7 linked regions of the Homo sapiens genome follow. The protein of the gene in region 7 purifies or fractionates together with the protein of the main gene of each other region. This does not show direct contact. Each region holds a gene or a part of one and is shown on either strand. Other genes may lie near its edges. The genes, in order: AGL, PEX7, ASAP1, UFD1, PLAA, YTHDF2 and ASPSCR1.

Region 1 (3,500 bases), on a different chromosome or scaffold from region 7:
TCCCATCAGATTCCTTTATATCTGTTAAATCTCATTTACTGTCAGTCTATGTGTTGCCTAAGTTTCAACTTTCAGCTAGAATATCACCTCCTTTGTGAAGTCTTTCCCTAATTTTTCACTGTCTGCTTCCTTTGATTTCCAATTACACAATGAGCACAGAACTATTAAGTGCTGAATAATGAAGCAGTGTCTAAAGGCTTGTTAGTCTTACAGTGTCAGACTAGGGTTTAAAATCTGTGAGAATTGATGAGGGCAGGTGACTCACACTTGTAATCTCAGTGCTTTGGGAGGCTGAGGCTGGAGGACCACTTGAGGCCAGGAGTTCATGGTCAGCCTGGACAACATAGTAAGACTTTATCTCCACAAAAAAGAAACAAAATTAGCTGGGCATGATGGTGCTTGCCTGTGGTCCCCAGCTACCTAGGAGGTTGAGGCTGGAGGATCTCTTGAGCCCAGGAGTTAAAGGCTGTAGTGAGCTATGATCCCACCATTGCACTCCAGCCTGGGTGACAGAGTGAGACCCTGTCTTTAAAAAACAAAAATAAAGGGCCGGGCGCAGTGGCTCACACCTATAATCCCAGCACTTTGGGAGGCCGAGGCATGTGGGTCACCCCAGGTCAGGATTTTGAGACCATCCAGCCTGATCAACATGGTGAAACCCCTTCTCTACTAAAAATACAAAAATTAGCCAGGCGTGGTGGCGCATGCCTATAATCCCAGCTACCTGGGAGGCTGAGGCAGGAGAATCGCTTGAACCTGGGATGCAGAGGTTGCAGTGAGCTGAGATCACACCATTGCACTCCAGCCTGGGCAACAAGAGCAAAACTCTATCTTAAAAAAAAATAAAAAATAAAATAAAATCTGTGAGGATAGGGACAGCCTTACAAACTTAGTGCAGTGTACTGCTGATTGATTACTAGAACTCTAGTTAAAACTAGCAAAAATTGTAAAAGCTAACCTATTTGAAGAGGGAAATTGAAGGATTTATGAAAAAAGAATGATGTGGTTGACTTTATAACTCTGGTTAAAACCGGTAAATGTATCCAAATGTTATAAATGAGAATGTGCCACCTTTTTTTGCAGTAATGGTGTGATCATTTTGTTTTAGAAGATAATTTGAAGCCGGGTGCGGTGGCTCACGCCTGTAATCCTAGCACTTTGGGAGGCCGAGGCGGGCGGATCACGAGGTCAGGAGATCGAGACTATCCTGGCTAACATAGTGAAACCCCGTCTCTACTAAAAATACAAAAAAAATTAGCCGGGCCTGGTGGCGGGCGCCTCTAGTCCCAGCTACTCGGGAGGCTGAGGCAGGAGAAAGGCGTGAACCCAGGAGGCGGAGCTTGCAGTGAGCTGAGATTGCGCCACTGCACTCCAGCCTGGGTGACAGAGCAAGATGCCGTCTCAAAAAAAAAAAAAAAGATAATTTGAAATGTGAAAGATGAGTGGAAGAGTGGTAGAGAAGGGACATTGGAGACAAGAAGCATTGAGAAGGCTATTTTAAAAACACATCTGATTAAAGAAAAGGATTGAACAGCCTGAGTTGAAAAAGAGAGGACAAGGCCAGGCGCGGTGGCTCACACCTGTAATCTTGGCACTTTGGGAGGCCAAGGCAGGCGGATCACCTGAGTTCAGGAGTTTGAGACCTGCCTGGCCAACATGGTGAAACCCTGTCTCTCCTAAAAATATAAAAATTAGCCAGGCGTGCTGGCGGGTGCCTGTAATCCCAGCTACTTGGGAGGCTGAGGCAGGAGAATTGCTTGAATCCAGGATGCGGAGGTTTCAGTAAGCCAAGATCGTGCCAATGCACTCCAGCCCGGGCAACAGAGCGAGACTCCGACTCAAAAAAAAAGAAAAAAGAAAAAGAGAGGACAAAGTATGAGTTATTTTCAAGTTCAGAGGACTTGGTAACCAATCAAATGTGAGGAAAAACTCTGGCAGTTTTTGGCTGTTTCATATTTAATTGGTCATCAAAGCCCTCATATTTCTTTCCTTCTCTCTTTTCTACAAGAAGGAATTCCTCCTCGTTTTTAAGACTGATATTTCTATAGATTCTTCCAGTTCAACAAGTACAAGAATAAATAATGATCTTTTCTAGACAAATCATAGCTTTTTCGCTTATTTCCTATCTCATTTAGTGGTAGAATAATGAATAAAATCAGGCCGAGCACGGTGGCTTACTCCTGTAATCCCGGCACTTTGGGAGGCCGAGGCGGGTAGTTGACCTGAGATCAGGAGTTCAAGACCAGCCTGGCCAACATGGTGAAACCCCATCTCTACCAAAAATACAAAAATTAGCCAGATGTGGTGACATGCACCTGTAGTCCCAGCTATTCAGGAGGCTAAGGCAGGAGAATCGCTTGAACCCAGGAGGCAGAGGTTGCAGTGAGCCAAGATCACACCACTGTACTCCAGCCTGGGCAACAGAGCGAGACTCGGTCTCAAAAAAAAAAAAGAATAATGAACAAAATAAGTACTTCCCAAATCTGAAATTCTTCCATCTTTTAAGTAGGTTGATGAAATTTATAATTTTTACTATTTTTTAAAGAAAATATTTAGACATAAAGGTTCTTTGATTAGAAGACTGAGTTTCTATAAATTGAGTGGAGGGGAAAAGATAGAACATATTTATTTACAATAATAGTTTAATCACTCATTATGCTAGTTGCCTACAAGAGAGACATGGCTAATGCAAGTTAAGTATCCTAGCATTAGTATGAGGAATAAGATAGCCACACCATGTACTGCTATGACCTCAGCTAATTTTAGCAAACTGAGTCATGGAATCTGACCTACTGTAGGCTCTCTGATGTTTCATTTACTGTATATAAAAATTTTAGTTTCAGTGATTTGCATTAGAGGTCTACAGAGTGGCTATGTATCCCTTGGGGTATGCGCTGATATATCTATTGGGCTACAGAAAGAAAATATAACATCCCTTCCTTCCTTCCTCCCTCCCTCCCTTCCTTCCTCCCTCCCTCCCTCCCTCCCTCCCTCCCTCCCTCCCTTCCTTCCTCCCTTCCTCCCTCCCTCCCTCCTTCCTTCTTTCCTTCCTTCTTCCCTTTCTTTTCTTTTCTTGTATTTATTTATTTATTTATTTATTTTTATTGATCATTCTTGGGTGTTTCTCGCAGAGGGGGATTTGGCAGGGTCATAAGACAATAGTGGAGGGAAGGTCAGCAGATAAACAAGTGAACAGAGGTCTCTGGTTTTCCTAGGCAAAGGACCCTGCGGCCTTCCACAGTGTTTGTGTCCCTGGGTACTTGAGATTAGGGAGTGGTGATGACTCTTAGGGAGCATGCTGCCTCCAAGCATCTGTTTAACAAAGCACATCTTGCACCACCCTTAATCCATTTAACCCTGAGTGAACACAGCACATGTTTCAGAGAGCACAGGGTTGGGGGTAAGGTCATAGATCAACAGCATCCCAAGGCAGAATTTTTCTTAGTACAGAACAAAATAGAGTCTCCCATGTCTACTTCTTTCTACACAGACACAGCAAC
Region 2 (3,500 bases), on a different chromosome or scaffold from region 7:
TTATTAAAAAATAAAACAGAGCACTGTGTCTCCTATGTTGCATTGCAGCCAGAGAAACTTAAAATATTAACTTAACTAAAAATTTAGAATTTTTGGCCAGGCACAGTGACTCAGCCTGTAATCCCAGCACTGTGGAAGGCTAAGGCAGGCAGATCACTTGAGGTCAGGAGTTCAAGACCAGCCTGGCCAACACTGTGAAACCCTGTCTCCACTAAAAATACAAAAAAATTAGCCGGGCATGGTGGTGCACACCTGTAGTCCCAGCTACTCAGTAGGCTGAGGCAGGAGAACAGCTTGAACCCAGAAGGCAGAGGTTGCAGTGAGCTGAGATCGTGTCTGGGTGACAGGGCAAGACTCCATCTCAAAAAAAAAGAAAAAAAAATTTAGAATTTTTTAAATAGTAGGAATAACATAATTACCTTATTAAAATAATCAATAAGGTACTTTTTTATCCTTAACGTAAAAAAACAAAAGGATGAAATTGGGAGATGTCACTTAATAAGATGTTTTCCACAGTCATTTAGCAGAACCTGCCTAAATATAAAAGCCAGGAAACCAACCTAAGTCATCTTATAACCCAGATAAATTTACTGAGACCATCATTAAAAATTTACCTCATCCTCTGCTGTTCACAGAGTAGAAAACTTTCTATATCCCAAACATCTGTGAACAGTCATGTATGTTATCATGTTAGGAAAAAGAAAGAATTAACCATCTCTTTACATCTGTTTCAACAAAGTAGAGACTCTCGCTAATTAGAAACTTATAAAGAACATAATACTAAAAGTGAATTACTATAGTTAAAAAAATATATTAAAGGAAAAACAGATTGGAGGTGAAAGAATGAGAAAAAGATTTTTATTTAACCTTAAGTATTGAATGTCTACATTGCCCAAATTCATTCAATCATTATTCAAATATTTTTGCCTAATTTTAGCTTTCACTACTAATTAATTGGGTAACAAAAACACATATAAAAAAGAATTAGTAACTCCAATCCCTAAACCCAGAACACTTTTTAATATACACTTCATTGATTATATTTATATAATTTTATTCTACATATAAAAGAAAAGATGAAAACTTACTTTCACCCTCCTAATAGCATAGGTATGACCAAGAAGTTCAAACACTGGTTGTCGTACATTCCTTAAGTCCCAGCCTCTCAAACTACAGTCAACCGCCCCGGTCACCAGCAAATTCTAAAAACAATTCAGAGAAACATAAACTGTGACATCTTTGCAATTAAACAGTATGCAGGCTTTCCTACTAGAAACAACATCTGCTTTCTGATAACTATTTAATATGAACCAAGGAGTCATTTTTGAGAAGTTGTATAACAAGTATAGACAGGAATCAACATAGACATTAATAGCAAAAAACTAATATGACTTGTGAGAAAAAGAACTCAATATGCTTTATGTACACGATGGAACACTACAGACAGCTGGAAAAGGCATAGTTCCAAACAGCATTGTGGATTTTCTAATTCAGCTTTAGAAGCGGCAGTAAATACATAGGGGATTAAAAATTTTATCTGACAAATGAGCCCAGCTTTCTCTTCAAAAGGTTTTCCCTGGAATTCCAGCACCTTGGGAGGCAAAGGTGGGAGGATCACTTGAGGCCAGGAACTTGAGACCAGCATGGACAATAAAGCAAGACCCTGTCTACCCAAAAAATTAGCCAGGCGTGGTAACACACACCTGTAATTTTAGCTACTTGAGAGGCTGAGTGAGGCAGGAGGATTGTGTGAGCCCAAGAGTCAGAGGCTACAGTGTGGTATGATCACCCCACTGTACCTCAGCCTGGATGACACAGCGAGACCCTGTCTCTAAAAAAAAAATAAAAATTTAAAAAAGGTTTTCAAGGCTGGGTGCGGTGGTTCACTCCTATAATCCCAGCACTTTGGGAGGCCAAGGCCGGTGGATCACTTGAGCCCAGGAGTTTGAGACCAGCCTGGGCAACAGTGAGACCTCATCTCTAAAAAACAAACAAACAAAAAGGGTTTCAACATACTCTGAGGTTTTTCCAGGCATTAAAAGGCAAGAGGTCTGTTCATTTAGGCACATCTGAAAAAGCAAAGGCTATGAATTAAATTTTTCCATGTTCTCTAAATCTAAATTAATCATTGTTTCCAACTCTCTTGGACCAAAATTCTTAATACGATATCTAATCATATCCAAGAATGTAATCAAATAGTGGTGAGTCTCTTATCTATTCCGGCTTTACAAATTCTGCTATCTAGAGCCCCAAGTGAACCCAGAGGTCCTGGCTGAATAGGACAAGTGCTGGGTCCACACTCAGTCCACCCCACATAACTCAGAACAGCAATGGATTTAAGTTGGCGCAAAAGTAGTTGCAGTTTTTGCCATTGAAAGTAATGGCAAAAACTGCAACTACTCTTGCACCAACCTAACATTGTCTGACTATGTTGGGCTTTAGTTTAAGCTAATTTGAAGAAAAGTTTCAGTTATTAGAAAATAATTTTTGTAAATCACTCTCAAATGTCTATCAGCATCTTTCTTTAGAGTTCCCAAACATCTAACATACAGGCCATAATTAATTTTCCAATATGAAACATTCATTTATGAGTTTGAAACTATAGTCATCAGCATTGAAATGTTTAGATTGAGTAATATCATTGTATATATACTATATTTTAACTTATTTTACTTATTTTTATTTAAAGAACTCTGCCAATACAATGTTCTTTTAACTTTAATTAATTTAAAACTGGGAAAAAAACAAAGCATACATTTTACCTATTTGTCACGGTCAACAGACCACTTCAGGGACATAAATACAGTCATGCATCACTTAATGATGGGGATATGCTCTCAGAAATGTGGCATTAGGCAATTTCATCTTTGCGTGAACATCACAGAGTGTACTTACACAAACCTAGGTGGTACAGCCTAGTACACACCCAGGCTAGATGAAACAGCCTATTGCTCCTAGGCTACATGCCTGTCCAGCATGTTACTGTACTGAATACTGTAGGCTACTGTAACACAATTGTAAGGCTTTCTGTATCTAAACATAGAAAAGGTATAGTAAAAATATAGTATGGAAGATAAAAAATGGTAGTAGGGTCCTTACCATGAATGGAGCTTACAAAACTGGAAATTACTCTGGGTGAGTCAGTGAGTGAATGAGTAGTGAGTGAATGGAAAGGCCTAGAACATTACTGTACACTAAATTTATTTTTTATTTCCTTTCTTCAATAATAAATTAACCTTAGCTCACTGTAATTTTTTGCTTCATAAACTTTCTAATTTTTTTTAAAGTTTTTTGTTGTTGTTGTTGTTGTTGTTTTGAGATGGAGTCTTGCTCTGTTGCCAGGCTGGAGTGCAGTGGCGTGATCTTGGCTCACTGCAGCCTCTGCCTCCCAGTTCAAGCGATTCCCCTGCCTCAGCCTCCCGAGTAGCTGGGACTACAGGCGCCTGCCACCATGCCTGGCTTTTTTTACTTTTTGACTCTTCATAATAACAAAACTTAAA
Region 3 (3,500 bases), on a different chromosome or scaffold from region 7:
TTTTTTTTGAGACGGGGTTTCACTCTGTTGCCCAGGCTAGAGTGCAGTGGCATGATTACGCTCACTGCAGCCTCGATCTCCAGGGCTCAAGCAATCTTCCCGCCTTAGCCTCCCAAGTAGCTGGGATCGCAGGCATGTACCACCATGCCCAGCTAATTAATTTTTATTTTTTATAGAGACGGTTTCTCTGTATGTTGCCCAGGCTGGTCATGAATCCTGGGCTCAAGGGAACCTCGCACTTTGGCCTCCCAAAGTGCTGAAATTACAGATGTGAGCCACTGCACCCAGCCCCATTTTAATTTTTTTGAGACAGGGTCTTGCTCTGTTACCCAGGCTGGAGTGTAGTGGTGTGATCACAGCAGCCCTGAACTCCTGGCCTCAAGCGATCCACTCGCCTCTTCCCAAAGTGCTGGGTACTGTAACATTTTATAACAGAATGTGAGGCAGGTAGAGCTGCCATGTGCAATGGGAGAACTTCTGGATATAGAGTAGGAAACATTTCATGAAAATGACAGAATATGAGATTTCTACAAAATTCTATGCTATTCTATTATATCGAGAGCTTTATCTCCAATTCCTTTAGGAAGATGCAGCGAGAAAGTCTGACTTAGCAACTCAGGGAGCCAGGTGCAGTGGCTCACGCCTGTAATCCCAGCACTTTGAGAGGCCAAGATGGGAGGAGTGCTTGAGCCCATGAGTTCAAGACCAGCCTGGGCAACATGGCAAAACCCCATCTCTACCAAAAATATTAAAAAAAAGCCAGGCGTAGTGATATGTACCTTGGTCCCAGCTACTCAGGAGGCTGAGGTAAGAGGATCACCTGAGCCTAGGAGACTGAGGCTGCAGTGAGCTGTGATCGCACCACTGCACTCCAGCCTGGGCGACAGAGCGAGCCCTTCTCAAAAAAAAAAAAAAAAAAAAAAAAAAAAAATAGAGAGAGAGAGAAAATACCCAGAACCCCGAGAGGGAAATTGGTTTCTCGTGACCCTCAGGAAAGGAAAAGTTTCATCCTCAAGGTTCCTAGGTAATAGTGACTACTTGCTCAGTGGTCTAGGTGCCAGCCAAGTGCTGCTCATTTGTCACTGTATTTAATCATCTGTGAGCTCAAATATTGTATTAGCTCCTTTTTGTATGTGAAGAAAGTAAGACTCAGAGAAAGTAACTTGCCAAGGTTGTGCAGTTATGTCAGGCACTGAAGCCAGGTCTTGAAGCCTGTCTGCTGGAGCCTAAAGCCTGGGTTTGTAACCCACAGGCTCTAATCCACCATCATGCTTGAACCAGAGCACATAAGGGTCAGGTGAGCAAGCTCTCACTTTTTCTTGTGTAAGTTGGAGCACCTGCCCTCCCACCAACTTGCAAAGTGCGGAATAGGGTTCCTAAGGGCCTGAACATTGTCCCACCCACCGTATTGATTTTTCTGGGCAGTGGTACGGGCGTCTCTGGCAGAGTAGGCGTGAGGTCGTTGGAGTCTTCAGATGCTTGCTTTTGGATGGCGTCTCTGGACTGCACATTTGGGGATAGATCCAATGGGTGTGACTTCAGTGTGACCTCAGAGGGTTGCTGAGCCTTGGGTGAGACATCTCCAGTCTGGGATTTTGCTAGCAGGTCTCCCAGCTGTGGTTTGGGGGGCAGGTCCTTCATCTGTGGTTTGGGAGGTAAGTCTGAGAGTTGGGGTTTGGGTGGCAGGTCCCCCAGCTGTGGTTTGGGGGGCAGTTCTCCTGGCTTAGGCGGCAAATCTCCAATTTGGGGCTTGGGGGCCAGTTCTGTGGGCTTTGGGGGCAGGTCTCCAGGTGGTGGCTTTTGTGGCAACTCTGCCAACTGTGATGATTTCTGAAAGATTTCGGGCGGGATGGTGGCTTTGTCTAGGGAGAGATGATCTGTTTTCCTTAGTGCCACTGTGGAAGCAATCAAAAACAAGGAGGTCATTGGTGGGAAGGGCTGCTTTCCTGTCAGTCACCTAAAAGAGGCACCATCATCATGAAGGGAACTGACCTATAGTGAGCACTTGAAATGGATGAACTCAGGGGCCAGGCCCACCCAGGCAGTTTTACAAAGACAAAGTTTGAAAGCCTGGAAAGTGTTACAATTCATGATTTTATGCTTCAATTATATAAGAACAGGATGTCTACATTCATCCAGAATTAAAAAAAATAAATAGAAACAGATTGCAGAGAATCGGAAAGTACAGAGTTCTTAAGCCTAACACCTAAATGTAGCCATTTAAAATTCTTTTATATAGTTCCTTTTAATTTTCCTATATATTTTCTATAGATATAACTTTTACTTGCTTTTATCTAATACCATTTTAGCAACAGTATTTGTCATGTTATTAAAAATTATTTACTAGTTGTATGTAATTTTGAATGGTGCATTCTATTCCATTCTATAGCTGTATCATAATTTATTATTATTTCTCCCCATTTTACATGATTCATGCAGTATATAAGCGAGGTAGCAAAAGGCTTCTTCTACTTTGTGCCCCTGTCTCGGGTTAACCTCTGTTACATTTTGGTGATACACACGCGTGTGCTATGTCTTTTAAAAACCATACAAGGGATACATAGTCTGAAACTTTGCTTTTCTCCCACTTACTATGTTTAGGAAAGCTCCAAATCAGTTCTTTTTTATTCTGTTTAATGGCTGCACAGTATGCACAGCTTAGGAAATGTATCAATTTGTTGACCCATTTCCATAGCTCTTTGTACAGCTCTTGGTACTTAGAAAACTATGGACATGTCTCCAATTTTAGCTCCACCACTTACTAGCTGTGTGAATTTGGGCAAATTACACAACCTCTCTATGCTGCAATTTACTGATCTCTTAAAACCCTACTTCAAAGGGTTGGCATGCAGATTACATGGGTTAATATATGCAAAGAATTTACTGACAAGCCCTGGCAGGCTGTAAGCATTATGCAGTAGTACTACCATCACTGTTAGGGTTCTTTAAGGCCCTATTACAGTATTACATTCCTGTTTTACTCATTTTTGTAACTTTGGCTCCTGGCACAAGGGCCAAGGACATAGCCTGCACTCAGGGAGGAAACAGCTGACTAAGGCACACTGAGTGACTCACATTAGGAATTTGATCCTAAAAATATAACGTATTCAGAAAGACATTCTTAAAGAAGGAGAAGAAACAGATAAACCTCATGTTGTAAATGTCACAGGCTGTACTAGGGCTGTTTCTGCTCATGACCTGTCTAGTCATATCTCTAAAAAAGTCAAAATCAAGGGGCACCCTGCTCACAGGCTGGTCCCTAAGCTTCTGCTGAGGTGGCTTGGCTCTAAAAGTTAATTTACATGAATCTCGTTCCTCTCTTGGAAGTCTGAAATTGGCTAAGAAACAATCTGAGCCAGGCAGTCAAGAGGGAAAAAGCTAGGGGGAATCCCTGAGGTGGTGGGGCTAGAAAGGCCTTGGCTGTGAGTCACACTGATGGGGCAAGAGAAACTCTAAGTGCCAGGCATGGAAAACCTTCAAAATACCCCACCCTCTTCACC
Region 4 (3,500 bases), on a different chromosome or scaffold from region 7:
CCTGGGGATGCCAGACCCCCGTTACCAAAGCCAGTCACCTCTGCATCCTTCTGTGCCTGCCTGTGGCATTTGGTAGAGTGACCACCCTCTATTTCTGCCCTTACTAGCCTGACAAGCAGCTGTCAGCGTGAGTGCATGGGGTCCTCTGCAAGCCTATCCATAGGGCCCACCACTCAGGCTTCACTCATGGCCTAGGCACGGCTTCCCAGGCACAGCCTCGGCCTCAGCATGCCTCTCCCTCCTCATGAGCTCCCTCTCATTTGTGACACAGCCCTCAGCCCCCTTTTCCCTTGGCTGTTAAAGTCACCTTCTCACTGCCACTCCCGATGAAACATTCTTGAAGGGATGTGATACCTGGGATTTGCTTCAGGGCATCTAATGTGGCTTGGGACTGGGTGTGAGGTAGTGCTGATCGATGGACTGAGCCACGACGTGAGCACTGTCCAACTGTCAGGGCTCGGTGCGTGGGAGCTCTCTTCTACGGCTCTTTCTACTGATGTATATGTCTGACACCCCTTTTAAGACGGTTTCAAATAAGACAAGCAAAATTTCATTGCAAGAGACATAGAGCTTCTGACCTGAGTCTGGACTCCCTGCACACCCAGTACTCATGGGCATTGTTTATCTCTTTCCGTCTCACTTCTCAGCCGTCGTCTACCTGGCTGGGTTGTTTAATAGAGACATGTGGAGGCTTTGTCAGATTTTTATAACCTCCTTAGCAGAGACCTCTGGGGTCTGTCACCATCTTGCAGCCTCAGCTGTGGTGGGCCATTCCATTGCCAGGTCAGCCTTGCCTTGTGCTGCTTTTGTCCTACCTCAGGTGCAGCCCTACTTGACGCAGGGCCTTATAATTTGCTTGTGGGACAGCTTGGAAGTACAGTGAGTGACTATTCCAGGAAAATGCTCTGCCCCTGGGAAGCCTGGAGCTAGTGAGTAATCCGGGCAGCCCTGCAGAGATGCGTTCACACTGTGAGCTATACAGCTTCAGTAGCACCCCTTTATTGGCCTTCTTCCTTCCACATCACTTGATTTTTCCCTCCTTCCTGACATAGTATCACGAATTACTTATCTTGGCTCAGGTTCCTCTTCCAAGGACCCAAGTAAGACGGGCCTGCCCAGTGTATAGGGAGCAGTGGTTGTGGAGGCTGCTTCATCTCTAGGAGTCTCATGTAGCCTCTTCTTCCTTTCAGATGATGCAGAACTTACTCTTGGAAGAAGGCGGCCTGGTCCAGGTGGAGAGCGTCAACCTTCAAGTGGCCACCTACTCCAAATTCCAACCTCAGAGCCCTGACTTCCTGGACATCACCAACCCCAAAGCCGTGTATCTTTTTCAAATAAGCGGAGTTCTTCTAGACAAAGGAGAGTGTGCTGGCGGTTGTTAAACATCATGTACTGTATTGAATCTGTGCCTGCTTTGGGGATCACACATTTGTGATTCAAGTTGTGATTTGAGAATAATGGGGTTCAGCTAGCACATCTGCGTGGCCCTGGCCAAGTGCACTGGGTGCTGTCTGGGCCACCTCTGTCACTTTCCAGACACTTCATGGAGACCACAATGAAGCCCTTCTTTCAGTTGGTCTGTGTCACCTGGCACAAAGCCAGGATGCACAGTATGTCCAGTGGAAGGAGGGAGCAGCTTATCTGCCTTCAGCTCCAGCCCCTTCTGTGGCTCCCTAGTACCTCCGCCCAGCTGTGCACTGGCCCGTCAACCTCACTGCATGCCAGCCTGAGAGCTGATTCACTCCAGGCCAATAGGTAGCAATGACTGCAGTTTCTATGTCACCAAGCAGAAAGCAAAGGTATCAGGTTCTAGTGGATTCTTTTTGTTCACCTCTGAACTTAAGCCAGGTGTATGTGTTGACAGCATCAGGAAGTAGGCAGTGCAGGTACGGGACGGTGCTGTGTGCACCAATCAAGATCTCTAGCTCCATGGCCCTGATTTTTCCTGTTACGATCATGGCATAAGAGTGGCCACTCCATTCTACTTCTTTTTTTTTATTTTTTTTTAATGCATACTTGAAAAAAAAAACAAACAGTCAAACAACACAGACAGATAGGAAGTTAAGAAAAGCTGCCTCCTTTCCCAGTAGCGCTCTCTCCGCATGTTTTCTTAGGAGCAAGGCACTGCTGGGTGTGCTCTGGATGCATATGGGCCATGTATATTCTTTGCTGCCTATGTTCTGGACACGATGGCCTTGTTGAGCCTCCTGTCCCACAGGCAGGGGGATGTCCTATGGGAAGAGCTAGTTAACTTGTCCTTCAGAGCTCTGACCTAGACATGCTTGTTTGGCTGTCAGTGACCAGGAATGGGCCATGCCCATTTTCTCAGGGTTTTTACATGTGTTGCAATGCAGACTTTTTTTTGAGACGGAGTCTCACTCTGCTGCTCAGGTTGGAGTGCAGTGGCACGGTCTCAGCTCACTGCAAACTCTGCCTCCCAGATTCAAGTGATTCTCCTGCCTCAGCCTCCTGAGTAGCTGGGATTACAGGTGTGCACCACCACACCCGGCTAATTTTTGTATTTTTAGTAGAGACGGAGTTTCACCATGTTGCCTAAGCTGGTCTCGAACTCCTGACCTCAGGTGCTCCACCTGCCTCAGCCTCCCAAAGTGCTGGGATTACGTGCATGAGCCACCGCGCCCTGCCCCAATGCAGACTTATCAGGTTGATCTCAGATGCTGTTTTGTCAGCACAATTAACTTGTTAGTGTGTGGAGAAAGGGCGTCACTTCCATCAGTTGAGAGCCTGGTGTTTTCTGGTCTGGCTGAGGTCTGGATGAAAGCAGTCTTGGCACCGAGCAGAGAAAGTGGGAAGCTGGTGCTGCAGCAGGTGCCAGAGTACGCAGAGGCCATATGGGGAGCCCGCCCTGCCTGCAGAGGCCTCGTGTTCTCAGCCTGAGGGCTCTGGCTCTGCTCCTCCAGCTGCTGCAGTGGAAGTCAGAGAAGATGCCCTGGCAGGGTCACTAGAGGAGTGGAGGGAAGGGCACTTCGTACCGTGGCACTTCATATTTGGGAGCAAAGAAAGCATCCACCACATAAGGCGCTTTTCACAAAGTTGCTCTGGTTCTGGAAAGCTGTTTGACCAAGCGAGGTGAACCTAGATAGCCTCACCCTTTCACCCTCAAGTTGGACTCACAGTGGCAGGCTCTGGAGCCACATTTCATGTGACCTTTTTATGTAAAGTCCTTCAGCAAATTGATGAGGAAGACATGGCAAAATATTCCACATGAATAGACATTTCCTTGTGTGGGCATTTGGGTTCTACAGTTTTACTGTTATAAAAAGTATTTGCTGGTTTCTTTATTTTAATTTCTATTAACTAAAGTTATCAGCTCAAAAGATAGAAACAACAGAAGTATAAATGAAAGCATCTTTGATTTTGAGGAACTTTTGAGAGGACCTATCTGACTCATTAAATCTTTTTTGTTCTTTAGTACTCCCACAGGATTTTTTAAAATCCCATGGTATAATTTGTATACAATAAAATGCACACAGTTCAGC
Region 5 (3,500 bases), on a different chromosome or scaffold from region 7:
GAGGATGAAGGATGGATTACAACTACATATTAACTCTAGAGCCAAAGCAGAGTTTCCAACTGGTTTGATATCAAGATCAAAATTATCAGCTGTTACTGTGCCCTACTCACCAAAACGTGCTGGCATTTTAAGCACTGCCCTGCAGGGTCTCTCATGTCTTGTCAAGTTAAATATAGCCAGGCATGAGGCATTTGATGAAAGGTGGCACAGAAGCTCCCAATCCAAAATGGCTGGGAACAGCTTTTGTATAGAAACTACTACATGACAGACAATTGCTAATTTGTCTCTCAAATGCAGCTCTCACTACATGGAAAGATACTTTTAAAATATCTATTTCAAGACAGGGAAAAAAAAGATTAGTTTCCCACAGTAATGGATTTTTAAATGTCAAAACAAAGGAAATTTTATCACTATGGGGCAAAGGAAACCTTTAATTTGCCTAATATTTAAGACAATAGTAATTAGAAAGTAGAAGTCGACATACTTTCCCTTCATATAAAACTTTTCCAGATGTTTGCTGATTAGCACCAGATGAGCCAACAACATCACCAATTTTTATCCACCTCCCTTCACTAACACTCCACTGATAGGCTTCGACTTTCTCCCCATCTCTGATTAGACGAGTCTGTCCTTCTCTAGTACCTTAAAATAAAAATTTTAAGAATCAAAGGTAGAATGGCAATGTAAAATTGAAAAACATTTAAATAGAAAATTCTTAACATTAAAATTTACACATAAGAGAATATGGATTTTGTTTCAAAATAAAATTGTATCAAATAAAAGATTTAAAAATGTGGCCAAAAGAAAATAACAGTTAAAAGGAAATATTATTAATCAAAGGAAGGTTAACAAAACGTGATTCTACTAGGAAGCAACTGGCCCATCAAAAATAAAACAAGTTTTATTAGTGAATATATCTTCCTAACACATTTCATTCCGTAAATGGCTCTCCATTAATCCAGTGGCTCAAACTGAAAAGTAGAAAAGCCTGATACCTTTCTCTCAACCCCATCGCTCCTTCGGCTACTTCTCAGCACCCCCTTCAGCTACTGCTATCAGCTCATTCTTTAAAATATATCTAGAAAACTGTCTCCTTAATATCTCCATCATCATCCCTTGGTCCAAGCCACCATCATTTCTCAGTTGGGTTGATTCAACGGCCTCTTTCCTGTACTCTTGGCCCCCGACAGTGTATATTCCACCCAGCAACTTCAGGAATTTTTTCAAAAGTTTAAGTAGGTCCTGACACTCTTCTGCTTGAAACCCATCAATGCTTTTCATCTCACTTGGTAAAAGCCTAAACTCTTGAGTAGTGTACAAGACCAAATATAAATTGTCCACACTATCCTACATGACCTTACTTTCTACTATTCCCCCTGTCCCCTCATCTCCCAACTTCAGCCACAGAGCCTTTGTATTAGCTGTTTATTCTGCCTATGATGCTCTTCACACAGATATTGGCAGTATTTGCTCCTTTCCCTCTTTAACAACTTTACACAAATGTCATGTTCTCAACAAGGCCTTCAGTGGCGGAGACAGCTATCCATCCTCCGAAGAATCATGCTCTTCTTCCATTAGATACAGCTGTAGTTGTCTAGCCAGAGACTACATTATCTAGTCCCCTTGCATTGGGCAGTCACATGATGTCACATTACTGAGTAATGGTCAGTGGAATCTGGGTGGATGTGATATATGCCAGTTCTGGCCTAGTCCATCATACTTTAATCTCCCCTCTTACCCCATCTTAATCTGTTTCAATTTGTTATTTTGGTTGACTACAAAAAGAAAATCCAGCCTAACACACGTAGGTAGTTGAAAAAGAGAAGACAAGTCTTTTCAGAAAATGTGGATAGGCCAGAAATACTAGTTTTTTAAACGCTACAGTGTACAATCTGAAACCACATCAATGAATTTTTCATGCTCTATTATACTAAAATCCACTGGTCTATCTTGTACTTTGAATGGATCTTTTACCCATGTCTGAGATGGTATCAGATACTAGTCATATGGAAAATAATGGTTCAATAACTTACGCAGATCTTCTGCATATTCATACAGTTTATTATTCAATATTAAAAAATGGCATTTGTTAATGTTATTACCACTAGTATCAATACAAATGGGAAGCTACTAAGTTCCTGGTGGAGATACATTTTTCCTACATTTCAATTTTCACTCAAACACTTGAATTTTATCTTTGGCAACATATATTATCAGTTATTTTCCTTGACGGAACATGCTCAATTTGTTCATTTTCAAAAAACGTCTGCCAAATACCAAAGCCTGAATAACCGTAGTCATTCTTTCAAATAAAAATAGCACTCCATGAAAAAACTGGTAGTTTAGCCTGCAACTCAAATGACTGCGCATGTTCTTTTCTTTGAGACACCACAGTATTTTGACTTACTTTATGTCTACTTTAGGTTTTCTCACCCGGAATATTTAAAAAGATGTGTCAAAATGTAATAAAACTGATAATTCTTAATATTAATACCTCATCAAGGACATGCTTAATGGCAAACTGTTTTTTTTTGTTTTTATTGTTTTTTTTTTTTAAACTACAACTGCATGCAAGTAGAACATAGTAACTTACCAGAATGGTTTAAAGCCCCTGGCTTGATTTACATACTAGTGAACCAGTGGTTTTACCCACCATTGTTTTTGCACCATAAGTGCAAACATTAATACAATGTACAACATTCAAATAATATCTAGTATTACAAAAATTAGTTTTGACCTCATGGACATCCTGAAAGGATCTCAGAATCCCCAGAGGTCCATGAATCAAGCTTTGAGAAGCACTGGTATAATAATGCAATCAAGAGATACATCCAACCCAAGATTTCATTTGAGATGACTACGGTCTTCTGATTTCAAACTCGAATGATTCCCAACTCATTACACAGACAATGCTTGATTTTAACTCATTTTTTTTTTTTTTTGAGACAGAGTCACACTCTGTCACCCAGGCTGGAATGCAATGGTGTGGTGTCGGCTCACCGCAGCCTCAACCTTCTGGGCTCAAACCATCCTCCCACCTCAGCCTCCTGAGTAGCTGGGACTACAAGCGCATGCCATCACACCTGGCTAATTTCGTATTTAAACTCATTTTAATATTCAGTTTGTAACCCCTCTCAGAGAATCCAATCAACCAAAAAGTATTAAATGAGTGCCTTTTGAGTGTCTACTGTAAATGATCTAAGTGTTGGGAGATTTATTTTTTAATTCCTGTTTATGAGAAGCTTAATTCAAAGTCTTCTGTGAGACAGAGGCAAGAACATGGTTTCTCATAGTGATTATATGTAATAGTAAAAATCCTCAAAAATCAGCATCTAGCAATGAAAAACACAAGCAAAACAACATTTATTTTTCTTCTAATTGTTCCAAAAGCCAAATATGGTGAATTTTTTCTACTAGGTACAATAAAATACTTACCAGGTTCATTAAGATGTTCCCTCCCAGGAAGCTGCTCAGCATTGATGTCCCCTAAATCGCCAGTT
Region 6 (3,500 bases), on a different chromosome or scaffold from region 7:
TTTTTTTTGTTTTTTTTAGTAGTGGGGGTTTCACCATCTTGCCCAGGCTGATCTTGAACTCCTGACCTCGTGATCCACCCACCTCGGCCTCTCAAAGTGCTGGGATTACAGGCGTGAGCCATCGTGCCCGGCCCCAATTTTTTATTTTTAGTAGAGATGGGGTTTTGCCATGTTGGCCATGCTGGTCTTGAACTCCTGACCTCGTGATCCACCCACCTCGGCCTCCCAAAGTGCTGGGATTACAGGCGTGGGCCATCGTGCCTGGCCTCAATTTTTTATTTTTAGTAGAGATGGGGTTTTGCCATGTTGGCCATGCTGGTCTCGAACTCCTGACCTCAGGTGATCCCACCTTCCTCGGCCTCCTAGAGTGCTAGGATTACTCGGGTGATCCACCGTGCCAGGCCTTAATGTTTTTTTGTTTTTTGTTTTTTGTTTTTTTTTTAAGATGAGGTCTCGCTATGTTCTCTAGGCTGAAGTGCAGTGACTATTCACAGCTGTGATCATAGTTCATTACAGACTCAAATTCCTGGGCTCAGATGATCCTCTTGCTTCAGCCTCCCAAGTAGCTAGGACTGAACAAGGTGTAAGGCCCTCTGTTCCTGGTTTAAATTTATCTTCACCTGTTACCCAGGCTGGAGTGCAGTGGTGCAATCTCGGCTCACTGCATCCTCCTGCCTTCAGCCTCCCCAGCAGCTGGGACTATAGGTGTGTGCCAGCATGCTGGCTAATATTTGTATTTTTTTTGTAGAGACGGGGTTTTGCCACCTTGCCCAGGCTGGTCTCGAACTCTGGCCTTAAGTGATCCACCTGCCTCGGCCTCAAAGTACTGAGATTACAGACATGAGCCACCACACCCAGCCTGTAATTATATAAACATTAAAGTGTTATTAAGTGTTAAATATAACTTAGTGCACCTAACTTTTTTGCAGAAGAAATAAATTCATTTCTTCCCTTCCCCCCAGTTTTATGTTTTGAAATACATTTTTAAAAAAAGTTTTGAGAGACAGGGCCTCTGTCACCCAGGCTGCCAGGCTAGAATGTAGCGGTGGCATCATAGCTCACTGTAACCTCTAACTCCTGGGTTCAAGCTGTCCTCCCACCTCAGCCTTCCAAGTAGCTAATCCAAGTAGCTAGGATTACAGGCACGCACCACCACACCCAGCTAAGTTAAATTTGTTGTTGTTGTTGTTGTTGTAGAGACAGGGTCTCACTATGTTGCCCAAGGCTGGTCTTGAACTCCTGGCCTCAAGCACGTCCCCTGCCTCAGCCTTCTAAAGTGTGAGTGGCAGATGTGAGCTACCATGCTGGGCCTTGGAATAATTTCAGATTTACTCTTCCACATTTTGCCACATTTGCTTTATCATTTGAATGTTTTTAAAATGTGTATATATAATGTTTTCCTGAGCCAGAGAGTTACAGTCTAGACATCATGTCTTTTCTCCTAGGTATTTTAGTGTGTAGTTCCCAAGAACAAAGACATGCAGTTACATAACCACAGTGCATTTATCAAAATCAGGAAATTTAATTGACACAATGTTGTTACCCACAGATCTTATTCAGACTTTATCAGTTGTCTTAATGTCCTTGATAGCAATTTTTTTGTGGTCCAAGTTCTAGTCCACGAACATTTGGAGACCGTGGTTTCATGTCTCCTAAGTTGTTATTTGTTGTTTTCATTGTTTTGAGATAGGGTCTCATTCTGTTGCCTAGGCCAGAGTGCAGTGGCACGATCATGGCTCACTGCTGCCTTCATCTCCCCGGGCTTAAGTGATTTCCCAGGTTGCTGGGACTACAGGTGCATGCCACCACACCCAGATAATTTTGTGTGTGTGTATGTGTGTATGTATGTATTTGTAATGTAAGACAAGGGCTTTGCCAGGTTGCCCAGGCTGGTCTTGAACTCCTGTGCTCAAGCTATCTGCCAGCTTCCGCCTCCCAGAGTGCTGGGATTACAGGAGTGAGCTATTGCGCCCAGCCCTCCTAAGTCTGTCTTCACTGGTTTCAAGTCTGTCTTCACTGGTTTCAAGTGAGGTTGTATCCTTCTCAGTGCATCATACTGGGAGGTACAAGATGTCTGTTTATGCCATTACTGATAATGTTAACTTTGGTCACTTTGGGTAAAGTGTTGTCCACCAGGTTCTCCACTTAATTTTTTTTTTAATACGTGGGAAAATAGTTGACACTATGTAAATAACTTGTTTCTCATCAAACTGTCTCCTTTTAATTCTAGCATTGATAATTCTTGCTTGATTCAGGTATTACTATGATAGGTGTTTACTTACCATTAATATTACGTAATGCTCAAGTCACAGATTTGGCCAGTGGGAGGTCCTTCAAGAAGGAGCCTACTGATGCCCTGGCTTCCCACTCTGTTTCCAATCTATACTTTTCCTTCTCTTTTTTTTTTTTTAATGATGGGGTCTCATTTTGTCACCCAGGCTGGAGTACAGTGGTGTGATCAGGGCTCACTACAGCCTTGACCTCCTGTGCTTAAGCCATCCTCCCAGCTCACCCCCCAAGTAGCTGGGACCACAGGCACATGCCACCACCATGCCTAATTAAAAGATTTTTTTTTTTTTTTTTGTAGAGACAGTGTCTCCATATGTTGGCCAGGCTGGTCTTGAACTCCTGGCCTCAAGCAGTCTTATCTGCCTTGGCCTCCCAAAGTGTTGGGATTACAGGTGTGAGCCACCACTTCTGGCTGTTTTGGTATTGTTGTGTTAAAATTGAGAAAGTTTGACTTTTGAAGCAATATTGAACATAGGTATTTGTGAGACTTAAAATTGCACATTATAAAGAGGAACAAATTTGGTGTTTAAAGAATGAGACAGTGCTGTAGTAAATATAATTGCATGATGCTGTTTTGAATTTTTTCTTGACTATTTTAAATGCTATTAAGTATGCCAACTAACTTAAATATAAACATGTTTCTTAGGAAAAAGGACATCTATAGTCTAAGTTTCTAATTCAGTGTTACAATTTGGGACAAATAATTTATTGTCTGTATTTCTGGAGTTACATTAAGAGATAATAGGTGGAATTTCATTTTATTTATTTTTATTTTATTTATTTATTTATTTATTTTTTGAGATAGAGTCTCGCTTTGTCGCCCAGGCTGGAGTGCAGTGGCACGATCTCGGCTCACTGCAAGCTCCGCCTTCCGGGTTCACGCCATTCTCCTGCCTGAGCCTCCTGAGTAGCTGAGATTACAGGTGCCTACCACCACGCCTGGCTAATTTTTTGTATTTTTAGTAGAGATGGGGTTTCACCGTGTTAGCCGGGATGGTCTCGATCTCCTGACCTCGTGATCCGCCCGCCTCGGCCTCCCAAAGTGCTGGGACTACAGGCGCGTGCCACCACGCCAGCTAATTTTTGTATTTTTAGTAGAGACGGGGTTTCACCATGTTGGCCAGGATGTCTCACTCTCTTGACCTCATGATCCACCTGCCTTGGTAAAAATGTAAAATTTAAAAAATTCTGAGGCCGGGCGCGGTGGCTCA
Region 7 (3,500 bases):
TGCAGGCGTGAGCCTCTGCGCCCCGCCCACGTCATTCTTCATGTGGAAGTTTTTCTTTCTTTCTGGGGTCAGTTGTGCCTTCCCTGGCTCAGGGTGTCAGCAGCATTCACCCACCAGCCTGACCACCTGCTCATAGAATTGCCCAGAATGTTAGAGCCGAAAGCGCTGCATGGATGCCGCAAGGGCAGCCTGTAATCCCAGCACTTTAGGAGGCCGAGGCGGGCAGATCACCTGAGGTCAGGAGTTTGGGACCAGCCGGCCAACATAATGAAACCCCGTCTCTACTAAAAATACAAAAATTAGCCGTGGGTGGTGGCGGATGCCTGTAGTCCCAGCTACTCAGCAGGCTGAGGCAGGAGAATGGCGTGAACCCGGGAGGCGGAGCTTGCAGTGAGCCGAGATTGTGCTGCCACTGCACTCCAGCCTGGGCGACAGAGTGAGACTTTGTCTCAAAAAAAAAAAAAAGAGCAGCAAACATTTACCATCTCATGTGGCTTCTGAGGGTCAGGAATCTGGGAGCAGCTTAGCTCAGTGTCTGTCCTGAGGCTGCAGTCAGGTTCGGTGGAGCTGCAATCTTTTGAAGCCCCCACTGGGACACGAGGACTGTCTCCAACACAGTTCACTCCTGTGGCGCCTGCATGTACCCACACACACCCACACACACCCCCACACACCCACATACCCGCACACCCGTACACACCCCCACACACCCCTGCACACACCCCACACACACCTGCACACCCCCGCACACACACCCCCCACACACACCCACACACACCCCTACAGCAACGTGCACACACCCCCACACCCGCACACACCCGCACACACCCCACACACCTGCACACACCCACACACCTGCGTGCACACCCCCCCACACACCTGCACACACCGCCCACACCAACATGCACACACCTCCCCCCCACACACACCCACGCACACACCTGTACACACACACCTACACATCTGCGCACATACCCGCACACACCTGCATGTAAACATGCACACACACGCACATCTGCACGCACATGCGCACACCTGCACACACCCACACACCAACATGCACACATCCACACACATACCTGCACACAACTGCACACCCCCGCACACACCCACACACACATATGCACACACGCACGCACACCTGCACATACCTGCACACTCACATGCACACACGCATGCTGGTGCAGCCCTGCCGGGGAGCCTCCAAGGCCCTCACTCCAGAGTGAATAGGAGGGTAGCCTTCTCCGTGGGGGTCAGCCTCTCCCTGGAGGCCAGGGCGGGGCAGTCACCCTCTCTGTGTCTGGAGAATCAGTCTGGGATTTAGAAGGAATAGTTGCTTTTCTTCCTAAGGAAGTTTCTCATGTCTTATACCCTCCAGGTTCGCATCGCTTTGCAGCTGGACGATGGCTCGAGGTTGCAGGACTCTTTCTGTTCAGGCCAGACCCTCTGGGAGCTTCTCAGCCATTTTCCACAGATCAGGTGAGCATCAGTGGGCTGGGGGCTCTTCCCTACCCTGTTTGCTGGGGAAGCTGCTGTGGTTACTGGGTCTGGTTCAGAGCTGGACACCCAAGCTCTGTGCTGGCCTGTGGTGCCTCTTGGCACTTTGCAGTCCTTTGTAGAGGAGGGGTGTGTGGGCTGCCGGTTCATGAGCAGCAGCCTCGGGGATGGCTGGTCACAGCTCATCGTTCTGAGTTTCCTGGGCCCAGCGGCCCAGCCTTGCCCACCTAGAAGAGCAGGAATGTGCTTCTGTCCTTGTGGGGGCCTGGTGAGCACTAAGGGGAGACGTTCGGTGCTGGGGGCAGGGCTCCCCATGCTTGATTCCCCTGGATGGGATCATAAGGTCTCTTTTTTTTAAGAGGCAGGGTCTCACTATGTTGGTCACCTAGGCTGCTCTTGAACCCATGGGCTCAAGAAATTCTCCCATCTCAGCCTCCCAAAGCGTTGAGATTACAGGTGTGAGCTCCTGTGCCCCACCAGAAAATCTTCCTAATAGTAATTGGATGGCTGGGCACAGTGGCTGGGCACAGTGGCTGGGCAAAGTGGCTTGCACTTTGGAAGGCCGAGGCTGGCGAATCGCTTGAGCTCATGAGTTCAAGACTAGCCTCGGCAACATAGTGAAACCCCTTCTCTACAAAAAATAGAAATGTTAGGCCAGGCATAGTGCATGGTGGTGCGTGCCTGTGGTCCCAGCTATGCCAGAGGCTGAGGTGGGAGGATCACTTGAGCCGTGGAGGCAGTTGCAGTGAGCCGAGATCGCACTGCTGCACTCCAGCCTGGGCAACAGAACGAGACTCTGTCTCAAAAAAATAAATAAATAAAAATAAGTAATTGATGTGTATCAGTTTCTGTCGGTTAATGGTTTAAACGTTGTTCCTGAATGTGTAAAAATTGGTGCTTTGTCAATTTGGGTCTTTTCATCGTTGGCTGGAAGTCTCTGTCCACAGTAAAAGGCTCAGCAGAATGGAAGGGACTTGGGGCTGGGGTTTGCTGTGAGCCAGGGGGTTCTCGCCCTCCCCGGGCCTCAGTTTCCTCACCTGTGCCCCGGCTGGTGTGTGGATGGGGTGAGTTCATGTCTTGAGGACCGAGCATAGGGCCTGTGGGAAGGTGACCGCGCGTCGGGCGCTGGGAAGGTGACTGTGCGTTGGGCGCGCTTGGTGGCCCCAGGGCTGGGCCTGCTCCCGTCTGACAGTAGTGCCGCGCTGCATGGCACGGGTGTTGCGTTCGTGGGTGAGAGCGCTGAGGTCTGCACGTCGGGTCTCAGTGGTCATGGGGATGGAAGCCACCCCAGTGGCTGTCGGGGTGAATGGAGGCCCCTGGAGATGGCAGCGGGTTAAGCACGAGCACGGAATTCTCCCTCCCAAAACGGAACTCAGACAACAGTGACGGAGCCTAAGAGCAAAGCCAAAGCCACGGGCAGGGGTGAGCGGGACCCGAGGCAGGAGATGACGGAGCCTAAGAGCAAAGCGAAGCCACGGGCAGGGGTGAGCGGGACCCGAGGCAGGAGGTGACAGAGCCTAAGAGCAAAGCGAAGCCACGGGCAGGGGTGAGCGGGACCCGAGGCAGGAGATGACGGAGCCTGAGAGCAAAGCGAAGCCACGGGCAGGGGTGAGCGGGACCCGAGCCAGGAGTGGCGCCGGGCAGGGAGGCAGGCAGCCCCAGGCGCTGTGTGGGCACTGGGTGAGAAGCAGGGATCCCGGCGCCCTGGCTCTGTGCTGCTTCCTGAGACGAGAGTGGCAGAGGGCAAGAAGAAAACCAAACAGCGCGGGGAACAGAAGTCAGGAAAGATGAACGTCTGGAAGGAAATGCCCCTGGGCCGGGCGGTGCCCCCGGGCGTGAACAGAATCCAGTGCTCCCACAGGCACAGGTGCTTGGTGAGGGCCGTCCTCCCTGGCTGTGCTGTCAGTCCTCAGATGGGGATGGAGGTAAGGAAATGGCCCAGAGTGGCCTGGGGCTGCCACTGGGGAGGGGCCGAGGGTGTCTGGAGAGGTGGGGCCGGCATT

What was found.
Region 1: the proteins of ASPSCR1 (region 7) and AGL fractionate together in Homo sapiens (co-fractionation; one large-scale study listed by BioGRID). This does not show direct contact.
Region 2: the proteins of ASPSCR1 (region 7) and PEX7 purify together in Homo sapiens (co-immunoprecipitation; one large-scale study listed by IntAct). This does not show direct contact.
Region 3: the proteins of ASPSCR1 (region 7) and ASAP1 fractionate together in Homo sapiens (co-fractionation; one large-scale study listed by BioGRID). This does not show direct contact.
Region 4: the proteins of ASPSCR1 (region 7) and UFD1 purify together in Homo sapiens (affinity purification with mass spectrometry, with the first as the bait; one study listed by BioGRID). This does not show direct contact.
Region 5: the proteins of ASPSCR1 (region 7) and PLAA purify together in Homo sapiens (co-immunoprecipitation; one large-scale study listed by IntAct). This does not show direct contact.
Region 6: the proteins of ASPSCR1 (region 7) and YTHDF2 fractionate together in Homo sapiens (co-fractionation; one large-scale study listed by BioGRID). This does not show direct contact.

Annotation. Positions count from the first base shown.
Region 1 is NC_000001.11:99,853,361-99,856,860, forward strand, and holds part of AGL (glycogen debranching enzyme), read left to right. Parts: intron 1-3,500. UniProt on the Homo sapiens protein: Multifunctional enzyme acting as 1,4-alpha-D-glucan:1,4-alpha-D-glucan 4-alpha-D-glycosyltransferase and amylo-1,6-glucosidase in glycogen degradation.
Region 2 is NC_000006.12:136,867,592-136,871,091, reverse strand, and holds part of PEX7 (peroxisomal biogenesis factor 7), read right to left. Parts: intron 1,203-3,500; coding exon 1,089-1,202; intron 1-1,088. UniProt on the Homo sapiens protein: Receptor required for the peroxisomal import of proteins containing a C-terminal PTS2-type peroxisomal targeting signal. Specifically binds to cargo proteins containing a PTS2 peroxisomal targeting signal in the cytosol.
Region 3 is NC_000008.11:130,059,175-130,062,674, forward strand, and holds part of ASAP1 (arf-GAP with SH3 domain, ANK repeat and PH domain-containing protein 1), read right to left. Parts: intron 1,896-3,500; coding exon 1,405-1,895; intron 1-1,404. UniProt on the Homo sapiens protein: Possesses phosphatidylinositol 4,5-bisphosphate-dependent GTPase-activating protein activity for ARF1 (ADP ribosylation factor 1) and ARF5 and a lesser activity towards ARF6.
Region 4 is NC_000022.11:19,465,694-19,469,193, reverse strand, and holds part of UFD1 (ubiquitin recognition factor in ER-associated degradation protein 1), read left to right. Parts: intron 1-1,190; coding exon 1,191-1,321; intron 1,322-3,500. UniProt on the Homo sapiens protein: Essential component of the ubiquitin-dependent proteolytic pathway which degrades ubiquitin fusion proteins.
Region 5 is NC_000009.12:26,919,743-26,923,242, forward strand, and holds part of PLAA (phospholipase A-2-activating protein), read right to left. Parts: coding exon 3,436-3,500; intron 643-3,435; coding exon 485-642; intron 1-484. UniProt on the Homo sapiens protein: Plays a role in protein ubiquitination, sorting and degradation through its association with VCP. Involved in ubiquitin-mediated membrane proteins trafficking to late endosomes in an ESCRT-dependent manner, and hence plays a role in synaptic vesicle recycling.
Region 6 is NC_000001.11:28,764,440-28,767,939, forward strand, and holds part of YTHDF2 (YTH domain-containing family protein 2), read left to right. Parts: intron 1-3,500. UniProt on the Homo sapiens protein: Specifically recognizes and binds N6-methyladenosine (m6A)-containing RNAs, and regulates their stability. M6A is a modification present at internal sites of mRNAs and some non-coding RNAs and plays a role in mRNA stability and processing.
Region 7 is NC_000017.11:81,984,129-81,987,628, forward strand, and holds part of ASPSCR1 (tether containing UBX domain for GLUT4), read left to right. Parts: intron 1-1,378; coding exon 1,379-1,479; intron 1,480-3,500. UniProt on the Homo sapiens protein: Tethering protein that sequesters GLUT4-containing vesicles in the cytoplasm in the absence of insulin. Modulates the amount of GLUT4 that is available at the cell surface. Enhances VCP methylation catalyzed by VCPKMT.